Homo sapiens: one gene and its partners. The protein of the gene in region 3 purifies or fractionates together with the protein of the main gene of each other region. This does not show direct contact. Each region holds a gene or a part of one and is shown on either strand. Other genes may lie near its edges. The genes, in order: PNN, RNPS1, SNIP1 and NKTR.

Region 1 (7,144 bases), on a different chromosome or scaffold from region 3:
TTACAGGCATGAGCCACTGCACCTGGCCGCTTCACATTTTCAATTCAGGATACCAACTAACTAGAACTTAGCACTTGGTACTGACTGTAATTTGTCTTTAAGGAAATGGAGACTTGAGGCTTTTTTTTTTCACATATCTAAATTTCAAGGCTATTAGCTATGATATCAACAACTGTTATATTCCAACACAATGTTTAAGTAAAGCTGTTCTATAAGAAGTTAAACCAAGTTTTTACTTGGCTTTGTTTCAGGTTTACAGTTAGGTCTTAAAAGAGCTTTAAGGATTTTTTAAAAAAAACATTAATCTACTACTTTGATAACTTAAATATATGATGCAAAACAAAACTTGGATAAATACCCTTTCAGTAGCAACAGTGGATTCTTGTTTAAATTTTTGAAGGGTACCCATCAACAAGCCAAATATTCGCCGGTTCCTAAAGAACAGAATAAGAAAATTTACTGTCAACAGGATCCATTTCATTTAAACCCATCATTTTCTAAGAAATACTACAGGATGCTTGAACAATCCCTTGATTTTCCTTATAACTGCATTATTTCACTAGAGTTTTTTTCCCCCAGGGAAATACCTTTGCTTTCCCTTTTCATCCATATTTTGATCCTGGATAAGGTCTCTACGTGTGCGCTCTTTGGAGGTAGCTACAACTGAAGACTGCAATGCTGGCTGCAGAAAAAGAAAATCTCAGTAATTTAACTAGCATATGAGTGGTGTGCTTTTAAATGTAGTAAAGTGAAGGTACTACATTCATTTAAGTTCTTTCAATCTCAATACCTTTTTAACATCATCATCCTCCGGGTCGCTTTCCTGGCGTGATTCTCTTCTGGTCCGACGCTCCCCGCCCAGCCTGTCATAGAAAATATTAATTTTTTTGAGACAGGGTTTCACTATACCACCCAGGCTGAAGTGCAGTGGTGCCACCACGGTTCACTGCAGCCTCGACCTCCCAGGCTCAAGTGATCCTCCTGCCTCATCCTCCCAAGCAGCTGGGACTACAGGCGTGAGCCAGCATGCCTGGGTAACTTTTTTGTACTTTTTGTAGGGATGGGATTTCACCATGTATCTAGGCTGTTCTCCAACTCCTGGGCTCAAGTGATCTGCTGGTCTTGGCTTCCCAAAGTGCTGGGATTACAGGGATGAGCCACTGTGCCTGGCCAAAAATTAATTTAAATGACCACTGAGGTATTTATGTAACTGCACACCAAGGGCAAATGCCCTCTCTTCTAGGACTCGTTTCCAGAAGCTTTGTTCTATCAAGTCTCCATCCCATTTTATTCTTTCCTCCAGCAGAGAAAGGATACTACAATGTGTGAACTAACGCCCAAACCAATTTTGCTCTCCTGTATTTTCTAAGTATTTCAAACTGGTTAAGTTTTTCAAGTACAAGTCAGAAAAAATGGTACTAATTGACAATTTTTCCAATTTTACTCTTCACATGACCTTTATTTGGATAAAATTTAGGTTATCATGAGTGCAGAACTGCGTTTTGAGGGAACTGATAGTCAACTGTTCAGTCAAATACCAACAGAACTTGGGGGGGGCAGGGAGTGGCATACCACTCAATTTTAATATTGCTGAAACAGAATTATTGTTAATAAACATTTATATTTGTGTGGTACCTCAGAAACTAAAGAAGCCTTCAGGAATCTTTTTTTAAACCTACCTACTGACTGCCCCTTCAAGGTCTCTCTGTTTGGCTGGGGGTCCTCCTCCACTATCTGAGAATCCACGCCTGAAATTTAAAATGTTCAACATAAAACACTTGAAATACAAGATAAATGGTATTTCCATTTGACAAGAGAATATGGTTAAACTTTCAAAAATCTTTCCAACTAAAGTAGCCTTAAACGGGCATTCATTCCAAAATGCTTTTATAGTGTTACTTTATAAGAATTAAGTTCACTCAAAATTGGTAAACTTAATATATTCTTCAACCTCCAGTTTTTCAGGATAACTATATTTATACAGAAATCTAGTCTATTACAACATTAAACAAAACAAAGACGACAAACACTGGGTTATTGATTTTATCACAGGTTTTGTTCAAACCAACATATTTAGTAAAGTACCAGTAGTTTCAGCATGAGTAAAGTCCAAAGGAAATCTTACCTCAGTAATAAACTACCACGTCCTCTACCTCCACCAGGACCAGAAAGGGCCAGCAATCTGGCTTGGATGGGCCTGTAAAAGATTTACAAATCAGTGCAAAATCATATGTAGACACACACAGTCGCACCCAAATACTTTCAGAGATGTGGATCATAAGGAGAAAAAATCACAAAAGTTCCAAAAAGATAGTTTCAAATAAATCTAAATGTCTGAAACAGGACAGGAAGTACTATTTCATTTAACTTCCTCGTTTCTCCAGGACCTGTGTCACAGAAATTATATTCACCTCGATGCCCCCACACATTAACAAGCCTGGATCAGGTCCCCATCCCGCCATCCCCGAGGAGGCTGCACGTGGACAGGAAGCTGGGGTAAGGCGGCTTGTTGCGTCCCGGCAGGGTCTCGGGGCCAGCAACGGGCCGGGTGTCCGCCGGAGCGGGAAGGGGCTTTGTGCTGCAGTTCCGGGCCTGCAGGGCCGAGAGCGGGAATCAGCAGTCCGGGTCTTCTCACAGGCCAAGAAAGCATGCCGGCGCACCCAGGCCTCGCTCTCCTTCCTCAGGGACCTGAGACCAGCGCTCTACGGAGGGGACCTGGGGCCTCTCCACCTCGGCGACAACAGGGTTTTACCCGCCGCCCCGCGAACAGGCCTCGAGGTTCCAGTCTTCTTAAGGCTGGCCGCCCTCCCCGCCCCCAATTCACCCCGACCTGAGGGCTGCCTCTCCGAGCTCCGAGTTCCGAGTTCCCGTTAGGCCCTTACCTCACGTCATTCGGATCCCGCCCGGTGAGCTTGCGAATGTTCTCATCCACGTTCTTAAGACTCTCTTTGGCCTTTTCCAGCTGTTCCTGCAAAGTTCTCACGGCGACCGCCATCTTCTCCCTGCGGCAGGCTTGAGACTGCTTTACAGGCCGAGCCGGGCTATGCCGCGCCGCCGAGGCGCGAAAGGACTGACAGCCGGGCTCAGCCAATGACGATGAGCGTTGTCTTCCGGCCTCAACCACTCAGCGACCGGAAGGGGGAAGAACCTGCAGCCTTTGTGACTCTGAGCCAATGAAAAGTCAGCCAGGCAGTCATCTCCCTCCCCAGTTAGCTGCGGGTGCCTGGATCCCGCTGCTAGCGCAGAGTCGGGGCGGGTTTCACAATCCCTGAGTTCTCGGAGACTTAGGCTCGCGAGTCTGCAGTTCTGGCAAGGGGAGCGCGGAGTTTTCTAGGCCTTTTAACCTATGATGTAATGTGCCTTACACCGTTTTAACGTGATCACATCAGAGTGGGACTTAGCCAAGCCTCCTTTTCTTCCTTACCCTCACCTTGGTTAATGATTTAATTAGGAAAGGGCGCGGCTATTCTGTTGGTGCGCATGCTCAGAGAGGGGGTGGGCGCGTGCTTTCCTCTATTAGGTTAATTTTTTTTTTTTCACACGGAGTCTCGCTCTGTCGTCCAGGCTGGAGTGCAGTGGCACCATCTCGGCTCACTGCAACCTCCTCCTCCCGGGTTCAAGCGATTCTCCTGCCTCAGCCTCCTGAGTACCTGGGACTACAGGCGCGCGCCAACACGCCTGGCTAATTTTTGTATTATTAGAGACCGGATTCCACCATGTTGGGCAGGCTGGTCTCGAACTCCTGACCTCAGGTGATTCGCCTGCCTCGACCTCCCAGGGTGCTGGGATTACAGGCGTGAGCCACCACGCCCAGCCTGATTAGGTTAAAGTGAGAAGAGGGAAGACAAAAATGAAAACTAGTAAAAGTCATTAGTCATAATGGCTAACGTTTGTTAGGGGTTGATCTTGTTCCCGACCCTCTGTGAAACCGTCTACATGCCTTATTTCTCACAAACTGAAAGTGTGGATAAAATGCCTGTTATTACTGATAAGGAAATTGAGACTGGAGATAATATAACTGTCCTTTGGTCACGCCAGTTGAGAATCAGTCTCTGATTAGACGCTGAGCATCTATACTAGAGAAAAGAAAGCAATGGCGAGACAGACACGCAGTCATGGTTGAGTTAGCCTCTTCACCTGGCCTAGAGCTGGTTAAGACCAGACCTAAGGGAGCGGCCCTGTTGTTAGTGGTGTCTGTGTGTGTTGTCCCGCTTCTGGTTCTGCCCTACCTGCACTGCCAATGTAGGAACTAGTTTTGTTCTATAAATATATATACAAATTGAAGCTCAGAAAACATTTTTTCACAGGCCAGGCACAGTGGCTCACGCCCGTAATCCCAGCACTTAGGGAGGCTGAGGCAGGTGGATCACTTGAGGCCAGGAGTTGGAGACCAGCCTGGCCAACATGGGGAAACCCCGCCTTTACTAAAAATACAAAAATTAGCTGGGAGTGGTGGTGTACGCCTGTAATCCCAGCTACTCGGGAGCCCGGGATGCGGAGGTTGCAGTGAGCCGAGATTGCACCACTGCACTCTAGCCTGTGCGACAGAGTGAGACTCCGTCCCAAACAAACAAAAAAACAAAACACTTTCCCACAGAAACAATGCTTTAAATAATCTCAGCCAGGCATCTATCTTCCTTGTACAAAGAATTAGTGGGCCCAGTGTATTAATTAACTCAAGCTACCACTTTAATCCAGCAATCTTTTAGAGCTTCCATTGTGTATCAGCAGTAAGCTAGGGTTTGAAAATAAAGCCTAGAACAAGATAGTTGTGATTCCTGCTTCTGTGGGGTTTGTAGGCTTCCAAAGGAGCAATGATCATTCATTAGTTCAACAAATACTGAGGGCCCACTATGTGCCAGGTGCTATTCTAGGCACTTGGGTATATCAGTGTACAATAAAGATCTCTGAGCAAGTCCAGTGGATTGTGCCTGTAATCCCAGATACTTGGGAGACTGAGGTGGGAGAATCGCTACAGCCCAGGAGTTAAGACCAGCCTGGGCAACATAGCAACGATCCTGTCTCTAAAAATAAAAATTTTAAAAATTGTACTGGAGAGGCTGAGGCGGGATGATTGTTTGAGTCCAGGAGTTTGAGACTGCAGTGAGCTGTCATCACACCACTGCACTCTAGCCTGGGCAGCAGTGAGACTCTGTCTCAAAAATAAATAAATAAATAAATAAATAGTATAGCATGTTAGAAAGCGGGAAGTACTATAGGAGAAAAAAATGTAGAGATGAATAATGGGGATGAAGATTGACAATTATCTAATTCTGATTGTGAGCATACTTAGCCTCATTGATCTTATTACAGGTCTGTGTACAACCTTAGGCAGTACCTGAGGCATGAGAGTGTGATAATAGTAGAGCGTATTCAGCAAGTGTAAGAATGTTTGCATGTATGGTCGGCCCGGTAATCCCAGGATTTTGGGAGGCCTTGGTGGGCGGATCACTTGAGATTGGGAGTTCAAGACCAGCCTGGCCAACATGATGAAACCCTGTCTCTACTAAAAATACAAAATTAGTCCTGCATGGTGGCAAGTGCCTGTAGTGTCAGCTGCTTGGAAGGCTGAGGCAGAATTGCTTGAGCCCGGGAGGTGGAGGTTGCATGCAGTGAGCCAAGATCATGCCACTGCACTCTGGCCTGGGCAACAGTGAGACTCTGTCTCAAACAAAACAAAACACACACAGCTGGGCACAGTGGCTCAAGTCTGTAATCCCAGCACTTTGGGAGGCCGAGGCAGGCGGATCACCTGAGGTCACGAGTTCGAGATCAGCCTGACCAACATGGAGAAACCCCGTCTCTACTAAAAATACAAAATGAGCTGGGCTTGGTGGTGCATGCCTGTAATCCCACCTACTCGGGAAGCTGAGGCAGGAGAATCACTTGAACCCGGGAGGCGGGGTTGCAGTGAGCTGAGATAGTGCCATTGCACTCCAGCCTGGGCAACAAGAGCAAAACTCTGTCTCAAAACACACACACACACACACCACACTCACTGTCCTTGCTTCCATAGGATCTATTCCTAGGAGCCTTGGCAATTTAACTTTATGGAGAAGGATAAGTAGGATGCTGTGTTCAATAGTTAGTAGGTCCTCATTAAATAAGTTTCCTTTCTATCCAGAAACGTACTTTAAAAGCCTCATGTTATTGTGGTTGGAGAAGTCAACTTTGATAAATTGGCCATTTACTTACTTTTTGACTTGTGTGGTGGACTTGGACTCCTTTTTCTTGATGGTAGTGATGAGGGCAAGAATGTCATCTAGACATAAAGGACCTGATTTCGCATAACTGAAAATTTAGTGCTGGAAAAATTAAGATTACCATGGCAAAATACTCTTCAAAATTACACAATTTAGTGTTTTCAAAGGCTTAAGTGGAGCTTTTATGCTGGATTTACGTGATGAATGGAATAAACTGATTCAAACATTAGAAGGGACATGCTTAAAAAAAAAACCTACCACAATTAAAATTTTGGAACATGATCTTAAATTCCTGTGAAAGGGCATGAAGAGTTTGTGTGTGTGTTTCGTTTTTTGAGACGAAGTCTTGCTCTGTCGCCCAGGCTGGAGTGCAGTGGCACAATTTCTGCTCGCTGCAACCTCTGCCTCCCAGGTTCAAGTGATTCTCCTGCCTCAGCCCCCCGAGTAGCTGGGATTACAGGCACCTGTCACCACGCCCGGCTAATTTTTGTATTTTTAGTGGAGACGGGTTTTCACCATGTTGGCCAGGCTGCTCTCAAAACTCATGACCTCGTGATCCCCCCCACCCCCCGTGCCTCGGCCTCCCAAAGTGCTGGATTTTACAGGCATGAGCCACCTTGCGGTATGTTAATTTGGGGGAAAACAACAGGGACAATTGGGGAAAAATTTTGTTTTGTGAATTACCAATGGAAGAACTAATCACAGGCTAAGCAACATGCTTACGGTTGAATTTGCCAAATTTAAGATGTACATACTATGATGTAGCATGTGTATTTATTTGCACATGCAGTGGGACAATTCCTACAGTTGTCTCACACTGCTGTAGATTATTAGCAACTCCATCCTGCAGTGACATCGCTTTTCTGAATTCTATAGCACTTTTCACCTAATCCTCTGATTAGTCTGTATTTTCCGGTTCAAGTGTATCTTGTTTTTCGTTT
Region 2 (7,270 bases), on a different chromosome or scaffold from region 3:
GGGGCTTGAACCCCAGCCAGGGCAGCTGCTGTCTGCTGCCCCACCAGGTAACGCACCGACCCAGCTGCTGTTCAGCTCCCCCTCTGGGCCAGCACCATGCTCATGGCATAGGCCGGCTGGGCCCTCTGAGACCCCCACTCCCACACAGACTGGTCTGCATGGAGGCTGGTGCAGCCTGTGCCGTACAGACCCTGCCCGGCTGCACTACTGGCCAGAGCCCCCTGCAGACAGGCGGCTCGAGGGGAGCTCCACCATGCAGGAGATGGCCCAGCACTGCAGTCACTTAGGCTGCTCATCCCTCCCCGAACTGACATGTCCCTCCCTCCAGATGCCCCCCACCGCCGAACCCCAGCATGCTGGGCATGCTCTGGCCATCCCACACAGGGATCAGGGTGGGAGGGCTGGAGGCTGCCTGTCAGGGGCAAGGCCTCCTCCAGGAGGTAGGACGGGGTGGTGCAGGTGGGGTCCCCTCACCTGATGGGCCCTCGAGGCCAGGCTGTAGGCAGGCAGGAGGGGGCTGAAGCAGTGGGGTCAGGCCCGGGGAGCGGGGGCCCTGCCTTCCTTCCTCAACACACGGGGCTGCCCAGGCCCCGCTCCTGGGGCCGGGCCCACACCTCACAGACACTGGTGTTGGATGCTTCGGCTTGAAGGAGCTCCAAATGGACTAGCCGCAGCTGCCCCTGGGTCCACCTGGCCCAGGCAATACCACAGAATCACCAAGGCTCATCTAGCCATGGGCCCAAACCCAAGGCCCTAAGAGGCACCCCGGGTGCCTCAGTCACAGTCCCAGGCAGCTCAGGTCCCAGGCGGCTCACAGTCACCATCCTTGACTTCATGGTAGCAGAAATGGAGTGCTTTGAGCTTGTGATGAGCACAGGCTCCCAACCCTGGGAGAGTTCAGACATGCCCACTGGAGAGGCCCCAGGCCCTGATGATACCCACTCCTCAGACATGCAAACCTGGAGCCAGGGAGGCCCCAATGAACTGCATACTCTCCCAACAGACCAAGCTCACCCCACACCAGCGCAAGGCCCTTTCAGACCCAGCCTGGCCACCCCCATGGACCTGGCCAGCACCTCCCCCAGCCCCACCCTCTCCAGACAGGCACCAGGCTGTGGTGACCCGCCTCTCAGCAGCTCCTCCTCTGATGCCTCCCCACGGTCCAGTCGTTACCCCCTCGTCCACCTGACTGGGCTGCGCATGGCCTCAGTGCAGAGCCAGGTTTTAGTAGTGGGTAAAAGGGCTCCCTTGCTGTGCTTTACCAGAGAATGCAACACCCCCAAAGCTCCTTCATGACCCACTGTGACCTGCAGCACCACCAAGCCCATCCTCATCCCTGTGTCCCAGGCCACCAGCCTCTGAGGGCAGGCACTGCAGGAGCCACCGGGCCACAGAGGATGGAGGCAGGGAGGACATTCTGCCTTCATGAGGGCATGCTCTCAAAGACAGAGCCGCCCCAAACTGTCAGCAGGTGACCCTCCGCTCTGGGAAGGCAAGGGGAGGAGCTCAGGGCCGTGGCCAGAGCCCACGAGAAGCCCGTGCCCAGCTCAGCAGGTGACCCTCCGCTCTGGGAAGGTAAGGGGAGGAGCTCAGGGCCGTGGCCAGAGCCCACGAGAAGCCCATGCCCAGCACTGCAGGGCTCTGGCCACTGCCTAATGCCCTCCATGAAGCCCTGCCTGCCCTTCCAGCAAACCAGGGCCCCTGAGGCTCCAGAAACCCCAGCTCCACTGCCCTCAGCCTCCATGGCCTTAGCAGCCTGGCTCTGGGGCTGAGCTCCTGGAAGGGCAGGGTGGGGGTAGGCTCCTGAGTTTTATTTTCTCACATTTCTTCCAGACATGCTTCTGCTGATCCTCAAAATGGCAAAAGCCAGGATGCTCAATTCTCAAAGCTCAACAGCTGATGGCACATTTGATAACAAAAATCAGTAATATTTAGAAACAAATTTGATTAAATTCGTAAGTGCCTGAATAAATCATACTTGTAGATTTAATATAAAATGTGTGAAAGCTTATTCGCAGGCCAAATGACATTACTGCAGAGCATTAAAAACCAGCAGGGGGAGGGCTGTCGGCCCAGCTGGTGCTGCGTCACGCCCACCCATGTCATGTGGGGTCACCAGGCTGCCCCTGCCCACCAGGTGTCAGTGGGGCCCTGGGCATGGGCTCTAGGTTTGGGGCCTTTTAGCACCTCTGACCACTGGACTCCAATGCCACCTCAGAGAATTCCGCCTATGCCTGCCTGGACCACCGAGGCTGCCCCCTCCCCTAGCGCCGACTCTGGGGCCCCTTCAGCAGGGGGGCGGCCCCTCTGTTCCACTTAATCTTCCATGCCTGGGCACAGCAGGTGTGACAGTAATGCAGAGACTCTAACTCACTTTACATGTCATCAAACCCAAATCCAACGGGTACCCAAACCAGACTGATGGGCCTGCCAGCCTCCACCCACAGGAACACACTGGTGACTTACTGCAGCAGACTCGGGAGGTAGCTCCTCCTCCTAGCTGCCTTTGTCCCCAACTCCTTGGACATCCCTTAGCCCAGGGTGAAGGGTCAAGGGCACACTTGACACCCTCGGACAGGGCCAGAGGGAGTGGGTCTCGGCAGGAAGTCACCAAGAGCTGGCTTCCCACACAGGGAAGAGGGCAGTGATGGCAGACCACATCCCCACTATCTATCCATCCATTCACCCACCCACCCACTCCGGGTCACCAAGCTGCACCCTGTCCTTTGCTCTGACATCTAAAGTCTCCAAGTCATGCTGGTTCTCTCCTCCCAAAGATCGGCTTGGATCTGTTCCCTTCTCCCTTCCTTGCTGCCACGAAGCTGTTCAGACAAAGTCTGAAGCTCAGCGCACCGTCAATCCCTCCACAAATAACCACAGGGCAACGACTGCCTGACAGGCACAGCAGAGAACAAAACCCGCCCTCGGCCGGGGGCGGTGGCTCACGCCTGTAATCCCAGCACTTTGGGACGCCCAGGAGCGAGCACTTTGGGAGGCCAAGGCGAACCTAGGAGCGGATCACGAGGTCAGGAGTTCTCGACCAGTCTGGCCAACATAGTGAAACCCTGTCTCTACCAGAAAAATACAAAAAAAATTAGCCGGGTGTGGTAGTGTGCGCCTGTAATCCCAGCTACTCGGGAGGCTGAGGCAGGAGAATCGCTTGAACCCGGGAGGCGGAGGTTGCAGTGAGCCGAGATCGCGCCGCTGCACTCCAGCCTGGGCAACAGTGCGAGACTCTGTCAAAAAAAAAAAAAAATCCGCCCCGTCAGTGTGGGGAGTTGACGCGGAGCCTCCTGCCTGCACCCCTACAGCGTCACCCCCTCCTCTGTCCCTGCCAGAGGCGCCACCTCTGGACTCTCCCAGGGTCGGACCCTGGTCGACAGTGCTCCCTGCCCGGACCCTGCACCGGCCGATGGATGAAGCCTCGGCGCTGCGCCGTTCACACGCTCCGTGCCGCTGCCGCGAAGCTCGCGCGGGCCTGCGAGCCGGTACCCGGGCCTCCCTTCCCTGCTTCCAGCGAACCTCGGCGCCTGCTGTTCCCCCGCCGGGCGCGCCCTTCCATTCGGGTCTCAGCGGCAGTGTCACCTCCCCGGAGAGGCCCGCCGTTGCACCCCATCTCCCACTCTCAAGCTCGTCGCTCTTCCTGCCCGCACAGCCCGCCTGCCGCGCCCACCCGGTGGAGGTCCGCCTGCCGGGAGGCCGCGTCCACGGGAACACCCCAAACGCCACCAGTGGATTTTGACCGCACGAACGCACGCCCTGCCCCAGCCCGTCTCTCCGAGCTACTTCCGCCCTGCGGGCCCCCACGCCCCGCCACGCACGGCCGCAGAGCCTGCGAACCCCTCCTGTGCTACCACCCCGCCGGCCTCAGCACAGCCCGGCCCGGAGCCCCGCCTCCACCGCCGGCGACAGGGGCCGGAGTCTGCCCGGGCGGGCCCAGTGCGCCCGCGCAAGGAAAGGGGCGGGGCACGGGCGCGTTAACACCCTCCGCGCCGGAGGACGAGCCTCGGTCATCGCGCTGCCCTCCCAGGTTCAACAGGCTACCCATGTGCCCGCTCCAGTAAGCGTGCAACCAGCCCGGTCAGTCCCAGGGACTTTACCGGCTAGGAGACACCTTGAACGTCCCCAGCGCGACTCCCACAAACTGCCTTGACTCTTTAACGCTTCCTCGCTGGCGCCCATTGGGCCAGGCGTTTACGTCATCGCTGCGCGCCGGGCGGCGGCGACTTCCCGCTCCTTGACTCTGACGTCAGAGCGGCGCCGGCCTCGGCGGCTGAGGAAAGCAGGAGGAGGTGGCGGCGGCGGGAAGATGTAAGTTGGGGCGGAATCCGACTGCATCCGTGTTTCGGGGGCTGCCCGGCAGGCCCGGCAGGACGCCTCGTGAAGCCGGTCCACTCCTCAGCCCCGCAGTGCGGCGGTGGCCTGGCAGCGCGGTGCGGGCTCCGAGAAGAAAGAGTGTGGCCCGGGGCGGGCGGAGTGGGAGGTGTCGAGGCCGTGGCCCGGAAGTGGTCGGGGCCGCTGCGGACGGAAGGGCGCCTGTGCTTCGTCCGCTCGGCGGTGGCCCAGCCAGGCCCGCGGGACTCAGACCAGCGGGGAGCGCGGCCTCCGCCCTTGGGGCCCTCCCGCCGGGCCGGAGACCCAAGCCCCCAACGCCAGGCCCTGCCCTGGAAGCGCTCGCGGCCCGGCGCCTGGACGGGGGAGTTGTGAGTGAACGCGGACGGGTAGCGGCGAGGTCGGCGTGTCGGGCCGGTGTCGGCGGGCGCGGAGTTTCTTTGTGGGATGCGGTGGAAGGTCGGCCGATCCCCCCTTCGGAGTCATTAATTCAAACGTGTACTCCGCGAACGTTTCCCGGACTCCCGTGTGCAATTATCGGCGCTAGGCCGTGGGGATACGGCCCACTATGGACCGAGCACGGTGGCCGAGCTCAGTTTGATGGGTTACCCCAGAGGGGCGGATACGGGAAGGTTAAGTTTGTTGGAGGAGAAACGTGGAGTAGGCTTTTTGTCTTGATTCCGCATGAACTGTGCCTGAAATGTACTTTTAAATGGGGAAGGTGCTCTGAAGATTTGTGCCGAAACGCCCTCTCCTCGAGATTTAACTAATTGTTCTCTCCTCTCTCTGGCTGTTGGACGCGCACCTTTCCGGAGGATGGGGGAGGTAACCGAGGTCCTGAGCCGGTACCTGAACTTGGGTGAACAGAGAACCTCAACTTTTGCTTTCTAGCACTCGACCGCACCCAGCAAGGCGTCCGCTTACTCAGTGGTTCTTAGTGTTTGGAGTGCTTAAGAATAACTGGTGGTGTTTGATTTCACCAAGTACATTCGGGCAGATCTTAGTTCTTGGGGGGGTGGGGCTGGAATCTGCGGGTGTGACCTCCACTCTAGGTCTGTGCTGTCCAGCCAAGTAGCCATTGGCCACATGTGGCTGCTAAGCATGTGAAATACAGCTAATCAAGACTGAAATATTAAAACACACACCAGTTTTAGAAGACTAGGAAAAAAGCAAACTTTTATTAGATGTTTATGTTGATTATATGTTGGAAAGATAATATTTTGGATGTGTCAAACGTTAAAAATTAATTTCACCCATTTTTGTGACGTGGCTACTAAGGAATTTCAGGTGATGCTTGTGGCTCCTCACACGGTTTCTATTGGACAGTGCTGCTGCAGGTGATTCGAAGGCGGGTGGGTGCAGGAACCCAGCTGAGAGTTCAGAAATTAGTGTAACTTTGGAGACAAGTGTCTGTGGGGGAAGGAGCCTCCGGACGTGGAGATACAACTCTTGCTCCTAACATTTATCGAGTCTTTAATTAATGCCCTGGGTAACTATAAGGTTGGAACTGTAATTGTCACCATATTGATGATGAGAAACTTGAGAAAGGATAAGTGACTTGTCTAAAATCACACAGTAAAACCTCAAATCAAACCCAGGCCCTCTGGCTCCAGACTCTAAATTATACTCTGAATGATACTCACTGATTGTCCGAGGACACAAAGAGTGTCGAGGCACTATCTGCTGGGTGTCTGCAGAACCTTACTGTTCTAAAGCAAAACATTTTACCCCTGGACAAGAGCAGCAAAGGTGGCGTTCGGCCCTCCTTGGCTCTCATTTGACTGTTCAAAGCCAGGTGCTTTTCTTTCTTGGGTCAGAACGTATTTTCAGCAGCATTTTGAAGCACCCCTGGCGTGCACTGCACAGGGAAACCAGGACCACATTGGTGTGCTGTGTCCTCCTTACCAACTGGCTCTTGGAGAAGGTGAGACAGAAGTAGCTGAGACTCCATTCCTGAGATCTTCACTTAACAACTCCTGCAGCTTGTGCAGAGCCTTACTAGAAATACTGAAGGCAGAAGTCCCTGGAAAATAGGGCCCATAACTAATTAGTAATTTGTTTTTGAGTAATTTGTTACCGTTATTTGAGCACATTCTGCAGTCCAGGCATTTTGCTAAACTCTTACATGGCAGGCAGTCTCTCACGCAATTTCAATGCCTACTTTTTTTCTCCATCTTATTTTTGAAAAATGTTAAAAAAAACACAGGAAGGTCGAGTTATACAGTTAATACTCACATAAAGACCACTTAAGGGCCGGGTCTGGTGGCTCACGCCTGTAATCCCAGCACTTTGGGAGGCCGAGGTTGGCGGATCACGAGGTCAGGAGTTGGAGACCAGCCTGGTCAATATGGTGAAACCCTGTCTCTACTGAAAATACAAAAATTAGCTAGGCCTGGTGGCGTGCATCTGTAGTCCCAGCTACTCGGGAGGCTGACGCAGAAGAAATGCTTGAACCCGGGAGGCGGAGGTTGCAGTGAGCCAAGATCGCACCACTGCACTCCAGCCTGGGTGACAGAGCAAGACTCTGTCTCAAAAAAAAAAAAAAAATCAGAGGTTAATAGTCTATAAGTTACGTTTCTGCTATATTTGCTGTATGGTGTATCTAGCCACCCATCAATCTTATTTTTTCTTTAAAAGTGAATTGCAGACTTGCATGTGTCTTCCCCTGCACTCAATATGCATATTATTAAAGTACAGTGCAATAACTGCTTTTTAAAATGATTCTTCTACTGCTTTTTAGATGTTCATATGGTACATTTCATCTGCTTGCTTTTGGGTATTAAGTGTTTTGATGCTGGTACCAGTCGCTTTTGAAATGATTTTTGCTTCCAGTCACATCCAGTGTATCCTAAGGGGAAATTGCAATAAAACAGGAGATCTAATCCTATCTGGAGACCACCCTTGAGTTAGGTTTTTCTCTGTTCTGCATGTGAATGTG
Region 3 (3,380 bases):
GATTTCTCATCCCAGGTTTACCACTGACGTGTCATGGGTCTTGAGGTAAACAACTTAATTTATAGGGTCTTATCCACAGTCCACTGCAGTCCTGCTAGTCCCTGGACTGCTCAGTCTGGCATGATGTCCTCCTTTACTACTGACTCCAAATCAAACTATTTTCTAAGGTATACCTCAACTGTCATCTCTTCCACAAGGTGCGGCCCATCTCCAAATTATTTGTTTTTCTTTTTTTTTAAAAGATGAGGTGTCACTATATCACCCAGGCTGGTCTTGAACTCCTGGGCTCAAGTGATCCTCCTGCCTCAGCCTCCCAAGTAGCTGGGACTACAGGCACATACCACCACACCTGGCTATTGCTCCCTTTCTAACTTAGCTGTAAACCAACTGCATAAACTTATGCAACTATTGCTGACTGGATTAATTCACTTTAGAGTAAATGTGAACAACTGTTTTTAGAATTGTTTCCCATTTGATAAATACACTGGAAATTTTACCCAAGAGACCAAATGAAGCTTTACATTCCAAAACTTTAATGTCAATTAAGCAGCCTTTTCACTTGATATAAACTCACATACCCAGGAACACTGTGGGCTCAGAACATTATTTCACAAGCAGGTATTGCTGGCACGTTGTTTGTGTCACGTTTAGATTCCGATTAAATGACATCATTTTGTTCCTCAGATCCTGACATACACAATGAAAGTATTTGAAAGTTACATAACCAGTTGCACTTAATGAGTCATCCTTTGTCAATATTAGAATGAGGGAACCAGGATATGACTAGGAAGAGACTCAAGGGGTAAAATCTGAAGATTCTGTCCCATACCTCTGCAGAATCATGGACCCCCACAGAGGACTTAGGGGAGGGGCTCAGAAGCAAAGGGCTGTTTTGAAAATAGTTTGATTTTGACACAATGATTTGCAGACAAGCCCAGCCACCGTGGAGAAAAGATAGAGAATGAAGAAGTTCCAAATGGCTAAGATGAACATGAACTTCTAAACAGAATGAAAGCTCTAGGATTATGTCCACTTTAAGAAGTCTGCTGGTGATATCTGGCTTTAGAGGCAGGTAATGTCTTTTGACACCCTTTCTTCAAAGAAAGGGGTAAGGGAAAACAAGACCAAAAAAAAAAAAAAACACCTTCTCAGGCCAGGCCTGGTGGCTAACACCTGTAATCCCAGCACTTTGGGAGGCTGAGAGGGGCGGATCACAAGGTCAGGAGTTCGAGACCAGCCTGGCCAATATGGTGAAACCCCATCTCTACTAAAAAAAAATAAAAAATAAAAATTATATATATAAATTAGCCAGGCTTGGTGACAGGTGCCTGTAGTCCCAGCTACTTGGGAGGCTGAGGCAGGAGAATCGCTTGAAACTGGGAGGCGGAGGTTGCAGTGAGCCAAGATGGTGCCACTGCACTCCAGCCTGGGCGACAGAGTGAGACGCCATCTCAAAACAAACAAACCAACAAAAAAACCCACCTTCTCAGATATGTGGCATAAAGAATTTCTTAATCCAGGACGTTATTCCTCTACTAAAATAAAAACTGACTAAACAATTAGGACTTCTTACTGAAAAATGTAGGCAAAGTGGTCATCTATCACAGTGCCCACCAGGATGAAGTTTGTAGCAAAACTCAAGGCTACCACAAAGTAGTGCTACTGCAGCACAGACTGAACAAGGAGATCCTAGAGTAAGATACCAGATTAGTGCTTAAACCCTCAAGAGAAAACCGTCAGTCTGGATCAAGAGAAAAGTTCATCCAAACAAACCTACTTTTCAGACAAGCACATATATATGATCTATGGCACATACCAAAATGAAGAAAATAGCAGTTACAGTGGCCAATGTAGAACACATTCTTCAACTTACCTTTTTTTTTTTTTTCTGAGACAGAGTCTCGCTGTCACCCAGGCTGGAGTGCAGTGGCACAATCTCAGCTCGCTGCAACCTCCACCTCCCGGGTTCAAGCGATTCTCCTGCCTCAGCCTCCCGAGTAGCTGGGATTAAAACAGGCATGTGCCACCACGCCCAGCTAATTTTTGTATTTTTAGTAGAGATGGGGTTTCACCATGTTGGCCAGGTTGGTCTTGAACTCCTGACCTCAGATGATCTGCCCACCTCAGCCTCCGAAAGTGTTGGGATTACAGGCATGAGCCACTGTGCCCATGCCCGGCCCAACTTACGTTTCATCTAATGACCTTATTAAGTGTTCACTTTTCAAAGGATCTTTTAACTTCTTCTGAATGAACATTAGTCAGCTGCCCCTCCCACTAGCCAATCTTTAGCCCTGAGCACACATGGGTATAAAAACAATGGAAAACAATCAAATTTAATAGTATCCTAAGTCTCAACCCAAGAGGAACAATTAGTAGTAACACTGATTGAGCTGCTTCACCACCTTTCCCCACAACCCACCTCCATGTCACCATCTGCTATTCCACTGACTTGGAGGCCAACGATATAACCTGCCCCACAACACTCTAAAACAGCTACCTACTTTTATCTCAAAAGTACTGACAGAAGGCTCCATTAGCAGCAAACAGACCTATGAACACAAGGTCCTCTACGCTAGGAAAGCATTACTCTTTGAAATGGGGCTATATTTACAAATTTTATTTTTTTATCCCAAAAATACATATAAATGAAAACCTGCTCTTCAAATGCAGGGAGGCCTTTGCCTAACATTGTCATATGAAAATCAGTATCAGCTCTTTAACACACAATTTACATATATACATACATACACACTATATGTAAGCAGCAAATACTTTGCTACTTACACATATTCCTCTGGTGGAAAACTAGGACACTGGGAAATTCCCCTGCTTTCCAACCTTGGGAAGGTAAATACAACCTCTCTCAACAACTTTTTAAAGGATGAAATGTGTAGAAACATGTAAACAACACAACCTGCTTTAGATCTATACATGTTATTAGAATAAAGAAAGAACGCTGTCACATCAGTGACAGTTTATTTCTCAAAGAAAAAAAGAGATAACATTTGAATAAAAATGCAAAACTGAAGTACAGTTAATATGATCAAAATTGTTGTGTACATGCTCCATGGAGAAATCAGGAATTCTTTCACAAAGAACAGATCCACAGCCAATTTCAGTCACTTGTGATGCTGAATCAGCACCCACTGGTAGCAACCAGGATCCTTCTGTACAGTCACGGGCTTGAGCAGGTGCCATAAAGCATCTGTTTAAGTTAAACAGTCAATAATGTTTACTGACTGCAGTACATTCCCACCCCCCAAAAAAATAAGTGCAAAATCAACTTCTAAGCTCAAGAGCTCAAACAAGTCAAAGCTTTGGTATATACTGGAGGTTGTTTTGGTGATAACCAAAGCCTAGTAAGATTCTCTGCTCAGGGG
Region 4 (7,035 bases), on a different chromosome or scaffold from region 3:
TTGTCTTTTTTCCCTTTCAATTTCTCTTTCACTTTTTTGGTGTGTTCTCTTTTAAGATTTTCCTTTGACCCATGTTTGTGCTTTTGTGGCTTTCCCCTATTGTTTTCCGAATTGGAACAGGACCCCTCAGAGTCAGAAGTTGATGTGCGCTGTTTGCTTGATTTCCAAGCACCATTATCATCAGGCAGTGAAGTATTTGTGGACGACTTGGTTGTGGGTTTGACTTTGATGTGAATTTCACTAACCTCTGATTCAGAATCGGATGTGGCCTCACCTTCTTCCTTGTCAGAGGATGGATGGGAGTCATTTTTACTGTTTTTAGTGACATCTCGTTCTGAATTTGACTCAGAGTCCCATTTACTACCAGCATAATTCTTCCTTTTGGGCTTACTGCCATTTCTAAGGTGATCAGAAAGATTCTCTTTCAAAGTTCTTTTTTTTGAATGAGGGCATTCCCGTTCAGACTTGGATTTTTCTTCACCTCTGTTTTTTTCTTGTTTATTATGTGTTCTTTCCATTTGGCCCTGCTTCTCTTTTTCCTGGGCTGACTGTGTGGCCTGAACACTTGACTGCTCACTGTCTGAAGAATAATCTAAAGATGATCTGCTCTCGCTATACTTTCTCACACATGAAGACCTGTCTCTACCTTTGACATATTTACTGTGAAGTGTCTTTTCAGAGCTGCTGCTATGCTTTTTATGTGAAACGCTATTTTTTTTCCCACTGGATCTAAGTCTCCTCTTAGCTCGCCTTCCATCATCACTGCTAATAGAAGTATATGAAGATGATCTACTACACTGTGAATGATCACTGTATTTATTTCGTGAATGAGATCTAGATGATGGAGACCTAGACCTTGAATGTGAACTAGCTAGACTACGTGATCTTGTATATGATCTGGAATAAGATCTACTCCTAGAAGATCTGCTCCTTGACCTTGGTGAGCTTTCTGAACTTCTATCACTGTATTTTGAATAAGTGCTCTGATCACTTTCCGAATTTTTTTCTCTTTTATGGTAGGATGATGAGCTACCAGTCTCTTTAATATTTGCTAAACTGTAAGTGCTTTGGATGGGTAGCAAATGGGTTGTTTTAGCTTTCATTTCCTGAATTCGCTCATAAGAGGGCTTCCAAGGTTTCTGTCCAGGCTTCCATCTTGAAGGGGGGGGACTGTCACTCAGTGGTATTACAGGAATATTTTCTGCTACAACTGGTTGTACTACTACATTTTCATTTTGTGCCATGGTTGCTCTTAAAGGTTCTGTTTTAACTGGTTTATTTTCACTTAACTGAGAAGCTGTTTTTCTTGGTGATTTTGATGCTCTCTTTCGGTGCCCAGACTTGGAACTAGATCTGGACTTTGATCTACTTCGAGAATGTGATGAGGACTTTGACGCAGTCCTTGATCTTGAGCTTCCTCTAGAATAAGACTGTGAGTGAGATTTTGATCTGTATGAGTCTCTGCTGGAATGGGTTAAAGAGCTCTGGACATCCTTATCAGATTTAGACCAGTCTCTCTTTGATGAGTGATGAGATGACAATGAGGAAGAACGAGAACTCCTTTCTCTATCACAAGAGGATTTCATTCTTCGAGTGGAAGATTTTGAGGATTCTATGTCAGACGGTATAAGAATCCTTCTCTTCTTTGTTTGTTTGTGTCTTCTGCAGTGTTTCTGCTTTTTCCCTTTCTTTTTATGCTTAACCTTTTTTTCTTTTCTGCGTTTTTTATGGTGGCCAGAGTGTCTTGCTGTACTAAGGTCTGAATAATATCCATTATAGGACCATGATCTGGATCTCTGAGACAAGCTTCTTTCATCCCATCGGCTTGAACAGGGGTCACTTAACCTATAGAAAGGACATAATATTCATGCGGTGATTTATAAGCATGTTTTCTACACCTTAAGACACAGCTTTGTTAACAACAAAGTTCTTGACCCCATTAACACTTTAAGCACACGCAGGAAGCGTGAATCAGAGTTATAGGCCTGGTCTTGTTATACTTTCAGAGACACACACTAAGAACTACTAACAAATTCACTTACAAAAGGATTTTTTTTTTAAGCTAAGCAAAGAACCTTACATTTGTTAGGAAAATGTTTTTGAAAAGCAAACCAACTAATCACAAGAACACTGCTGAACTCAAATCACAAGAGTTCCTGGCTGTTATCTGCTCACAACCCTCTGCCTCTAGGACAGTTTTTGAGGGTGAGTCAAACCAAGGTCTCAAACAATTTGTTGATTTTCTGAAGATGCAGGATAGCTGCTTGAAACTAGCATGAAGCTTGTTTTTTCTCCACCTCAGACAGGTAATCCAGATTTCCCCTAAGACTGTAAACTACTTAAAACAGAAATTGAGGAAAAAGTACACAAAAACAGATACAGGTTACAATCTGAGTGTTAATGTCAAGGCTCAGAACTGAAAGTCCTCAGCACCACTGTGTCTGAGCCGCTTCTACACAGCAGATGCATTCCTTTTCCTCCTTTTCACAATTCCAAACCACTCTGCAGGATGTCCCCAGAGAAAAAGAGAATACTACCATGGAAGATTACACAGGGTCCCATTAGTATATTTTTCACTAGCTATTCTGGGGCCTATCCCCTTCCTAAAATAAATATTCAACTGTGGGACATCACTGAAGGTAAGAGATGTGTACACTTCTAAAAAAGCAAGTCTCTGCGATCAACAGTCAACATGAACACCGAGTGCAGGTTTTCCTATTTACCAATGAACTCATCAGTGACCTGGCTGGCTAGGAAAGAATCTGCTATATAATTTCTAAGTCCTAATTATTTTTTTTTTTTTTTGAGACGGAGTCTCGCTCTGTCACCCAGGCTGGAGTGCAGTGGCACGATCTCAGCTCACTGCAAGCTCCACCTCCCGGGTTCACACCATTCTCCTGCCTCAGCCTCTCTAAGTAGCTGGGACTACAGGCACCCGCCACCACGCCCGGCTAATTTTTTGTATTTTTAGTAGAGATGGGGTTTCACTGTGGTCCCAATCTCCTGACCTCGTGATCCGCCTGCCTCGGCCTCCCAAAGTGCTGGGATGACAAGCGTGAGCCACCACGCCCGGCCTCTAAGTCCTAATTATTTCTAAAATTGACTAAGAGGTCATTAAAAGACACAGGCTTATAGTTTTTGTTAAGGAAAACAGGATTTTGATTTAAAAGCCCAACTAGTTAACAGTACTACTTTCATCAAGTAGTCCCAAATGTATTTCCTTTGGTCACAGTCTGACTGTGAATCTTTCACTGAATCTTTAATGAAAAGTCCAGAATTGTATCCAATCCCTTTAACATTTAAAATATAACAGACACAGGATTGTGCTTATACTCAAAGTTCTTACTTATCTCCTTTACTCCATTTTTCTCCACTAGGTGGTCTATATGCTCTTAATCTCTGCATTTCCTCTTTCCAGTGAGGAGGAGTTTCACTGCTGTCATCATCATCTGACTCAGAACAGGATCTTGATCTTGGAGGTGTGTGATAGCGCTTTAAAAACAAAAACAATAGTATTTTAAAAAATGCCTCTCCACGACAGTCTGCTATGTGACAGAGTTAAGTAAAAGACCCAATCTCAGATCATCCCATCAAAGGTAATGATTGAAGTTACCAAAAGGATGGTCTAAAGTTCTTTTTTTTTTTTTTTTTTTTTAGTTTTTAACTTTTATTTTAGGTTCAGGTGAAGTTATTTCAAACAAGGCATTAAAAGAGATGGGCAAGGCTGAGATTCACCTGTAATCCACATAAAATTTTCCTTTTTAAAGTCTTAATGATTTCTCAGCATACTCACTGATGGTTTCACATGTTCCTCCTTTCATACTCAATTAAACCCATTCAAACACAGCAGTATACTTTGATCTAACAGCAATACCTTCCCATAACCATGGAAAATACAATTAGTTCCTTGAACAGATTTTGTATTATATCTAAAATTAACGCTAGGACTTTGAAAATAGGTAAAAATTTTTTATTAGATACATAATATCAAAAAAAGTCTTATCACACATACAATTGTGCCCCTTCCTTTAATCTTCCGTCCAGACTTTGATACAGATGGTTTCTGATCACTTACAATGGGTGCAACATCAGGAATCTTCCTAGGAAAAGAAGATTGTGATGAAAATTAAAAATAAGCAAAGAAGCTAGAATTTTTAATAATGAAAACACATTATGTTAAGCTATTAATTCAAAGATACATGCCATTTTGCAATAGCTTTTTAAAACAAGACAATATCAGGCTTTAAAAAATATTTAATGAACTAAATGATAACTTTATGCAGAGAGCTAATTATAAATAAGGACTCTTATACTTTTCAGCTTTCAAAATAACTCTTCATAGGGAACTTATCAATGACACCAGCCATTATGATATTTCTGTTCATGAAACATTTTCTTTCAATAATTCTAAACTTGAGTCTAACACACAAAATACATTAAATACTATTTTCTCAGACCAAATCTAAAGCGACACATTCACTTTTCCAATGCAGGAAGTAATTGTTGAACAAGTTAACAAAAGTAACTTATTTATGATACTAAATTGTATCTCCAATCATCATGCAATTAATTATGCACTATTCAAATTGGAACCCATGCTTCATCACTCAAATGGATCCAAAGAATTCAACTAACTCTCTATTCTGATAACTAAAACCTCACCCCTCTAATAAAAGGCAAAGGCAAGAAGATCAGGAATAAAATCTTTCCAGATCCCCAATAAGGGCTTCCCTGACCAACTTGCCCAACCTCCTCTCCCTGCTAGAATGTGAATTCTGAAAGGTAGGGTACATATCACTCAATAATCTGGTATCCCCCATATTTCCTACGTATCATTCATTAATCTAATACTCCCATACTATCTTTCAATGTGCTTCAAACATGGATCATGTTCCATACATGAGTGTGGAATGCAATGAGCTGACGGAACAGTGTTATCGGAGAAATAAAAATAAATAGTTTAGTCATCCTACTTACGGTTCAGGTTCTGCAGTAACAACAGGCATATCTCTTCTCAGTAAAAATCGGTTCTCAGGCACTGGAGGAATCTCTTCTGGGCGGACCACAGGTTTTTCCCTTTTAGCACTGGAATCAACTGACCTTTTTTCATTGGTATCACTCCTCTCAGAGTGACTTAGAACAAACCAAGTCACTGATTAAAATGTATAATGTTTGCATTTCATAATAAAAGCACATAAAATTAGTTACTAAAACAACAGCATAATTAACGATAGCTTACAAGTCTCACTCAAAAGAGTTATATGATTTTCACAAAGAGAACAATATCAACCCAGTGAAAAACCCAAAGACTAGAATTTTGATAGGAAAATTGTTAAATGATCCTAACTTTTTTATTTTAAGAGTTCCAGGAGGCCAGGCATTGTGGCTCACACCTGTAATCCCAGTACTTTAGGGGTCTTAGGTGGGAGGATTGCTTGAGGACAGGAGTCAGAGACCAGCCTGGTCAACATAGCGGAAGACCCTGTCTCTACAAAAAATTTAAAAATTAGCCAAGCATAGTGGTATACGCCCGTAGTCCTAGCTACTCAGGAGGCTGATGCAGAAAGATCTCTTGAGCCCAGGAGGTGGAGGATGCAGTGAGCTATAATTGTGCCACTGTATTCCAGCCTGGATAACAGAGCAAGACCCTATCTCTTAAAAAAAGAGTTCTTAGGACTATTTTCACCCGAAAACTGAAAACACACAAATCTTTGAAATGAAATGCCTATGCTACCTACTCCTAGATTTGCCAGATTTCAATTTAAAGTTTAAAAAGTGCTATCCTTTTTCAATAACAGGTAATAAAATTGAGTTTATAGAATTATACATACTTTTCCCATTCCAGAGTGTTTGTTTTTAGGTAAGAGTACATTGGTGTTTTACACGTACCCTTTTGGGTTCATTGCATGTTTATTCCTTGGCTCTTCTGAACTGCTTGCTTCCTTTCGCCTCTTTTTAGAACGTTTAACTTTTGGCCTCCTCTTATGTTTCCTCCTTCTGCTTCTCTCATGTTCAAGTTCACTTTCTGAAGATGATTCTGAAGAAGAGGAGGAATTGGAAGAGGAATCCGAGCCTTCTGAATGAGTTGGTTTCTTCCTTTTTTTCTCAAAAACTTTTAAGAAACATTAATAAAAACATTAGTACTAAATTCAGTGCCTACCTTTCAGAGTAAAAAATGTGATTACTGAATATCATAAAATATGCTTTACATACAGCAAACAAAAAATGAAATGTAGACAGTTTTTTTCAAGTTTATAATAAAATTACTGGCAAGATTGTAAGGTAGTAAGTCCCTTGTCTTTATGAAGCCTATATTCTTGTTGGGTCAAGTAACAAGAAATAGGCCCGGTGCAGTGACTCATATCTGTAATCCTAACACTGTGGGAGGCCAAGGTGAGCAAATCACTTGAGGTCAGGAGTACAAGACCAGCCTGGCCAACATGGTGAAACCATGTCTCTACTAAAAATAACAAAAATTAGCCAGGCATGGTGGTGCATCCCTATAATCCCAGCTACTCCAGAGGCTGAGGCAGGAGAATCACCTGAACCCAGGAGGCAGAGGTTGCAGTGAGCCGAGATAGTGCCACTGCACTCCAGCCTGGGTGACAGAGCAAGACTCTTGTCTCAAAAAAAAAAAAAAAAAAAAAAAAAGAATTGCATAATATGACAAATGATTAAGTGCTAAGACAGAAAAACAAAGCAGTGTAAAGGGAATAGGAAGACTAGGGGTAGTTTAACATAACATTTGAACAGAGACTTAAGAGCAAGGGACAGTGTCATGCAGATATCTTAACAAAGGGTGTTCCAGACAAAGAGAATAGGCAGCACAAAATCCCTGAGTGGTTGGCATGTCTGAAAAAAGGTCAATGTGCCTGGAAGGCAATGAATAAGGGAAAAGAGTTTAGAGAGACAGCAGAGAGCCAGACCAGCCAGGGCCTTAGAGACCACCATAAAGACTTCTGCTTTGGATGATTGAAGATGGGAGTCCTTGGAGGGTTCTGTGCAGGCGTGACATGAATGCAAACTATGGTTCAA

Evidence for each region.
Region 1: the proteins of SNIP1 (region 3) and PNN purify together in Homo sapiens (affinity purification with mass spectrometry; 6 studies listed by BioGRID and IntAct, with this or other methods). This does not show direct contact.
Region 2: the proteins of SNIP1 (region 3) and RNPS1 purify together in Homo sapiens (affinity purification with mass spectrometry; 6 studies listed by BioGRID and IntAct, with this or other methods). This does not show direct contact.
Region 4: the proteins of SNIP1 (region 3) and NKTR purify together in Homo sapiens (affinity purification with mass spectrometry; 5 studies listed by BioGRID and IntAct, with this or other methods). This does not show direct contact.

The regions. Positions count from the first base shown.
Region 1 is NC_000014.9:39,171,131-39,178,274, reverse strand, and holds the start of PNN (pinin), read right to left. Parts: upstream 3,022-7,144; 5' UTR 2,996-3,021; coding exon 2,883-2,995; intron 2,497-2,882; exon of another isoform or gene 2,395-2,496; intron 2,198-2,394; coding exon 2,126-2,197; intron 1,749-2,125; coding exon 1,680-1,748; intron 864-1,679; coding exon 791-863; intron 683-790; coding exon 588-682; intron 435-587; coding exon 359-434; intron 1-358. UniProt on the Homo sapiens protein: Transcriptional activator binding to the E-box 1 core sequence of the E-cadherin promoter gene; the core-binding sequence is 5'CAGGTG-3'. Capable of reversing CTBP1-mediated transcription repression.
Region 2 is NC_000016.10:2,265,096-2,272,365, reverse strand, and holds the start of RNPS1 (RNA-binding protein with serine-rich domain 1), read left to right. Parts: upstream 1-4,239; 5' UTR 4,240-4,309; coding exon of another isoform or gene 4,310-4,311; exon of another isoform or gene 4,312-6,256; intron 6,257-7,270. UniProt on the Homo sapiens protein: Part of pre- and post-splicing multiprotein mRNP complexes. Auxiliary component of the splicing-dependent multiprotein exon junction complex (EJC) deposited at splice junction on mRNAs.
Region 3 is NC_000001.11:37,533,939-37,537,318, forward strand, and holds the end of SNIP1 (smad nuclear-interacting protein 1), read right to left. Parts: 3' UTR 511-3,380; downstream 1-510. UniProt on the Homo sapiens protein: Required for pre-mRNA splicing as component of the spliceosome. As a component of the minor spliceosome, involved in the splicing of U12-type introns in pre-mRNAs. Down-regulates NF-kappa-B signaling by competing with RELA for CREBBP/EP300 binding.
Region 4 is NC_000003.12:42,631,678-42,638,712, reverse strand, and holds part of NKTR (NK-tumor recognition protein), read right to left. Parts: intron 6,113-7,035; coding exon 5,890-6,112; intron 5,153-5,889; coding exon of another isoform or gene 5,134-5,152; coding exon 4,978-5,133; exon of another isoform or gene 4,977-4,977; intron 4,101-4,976; coding exon 4,013-4,100; intron 3,493-4,012; coding exon 3,347-3,492; intron 1,846-3,346; coding exon 1-1,845. UniProt on the Homo sapiens protein: PPIase that catalyzes the cis-trans isomerization of proline imidic peptide bonds in oligopeptides and may therefore assist protein folding. Component of a putative tumor-recognition complex involved in the function of NK cells.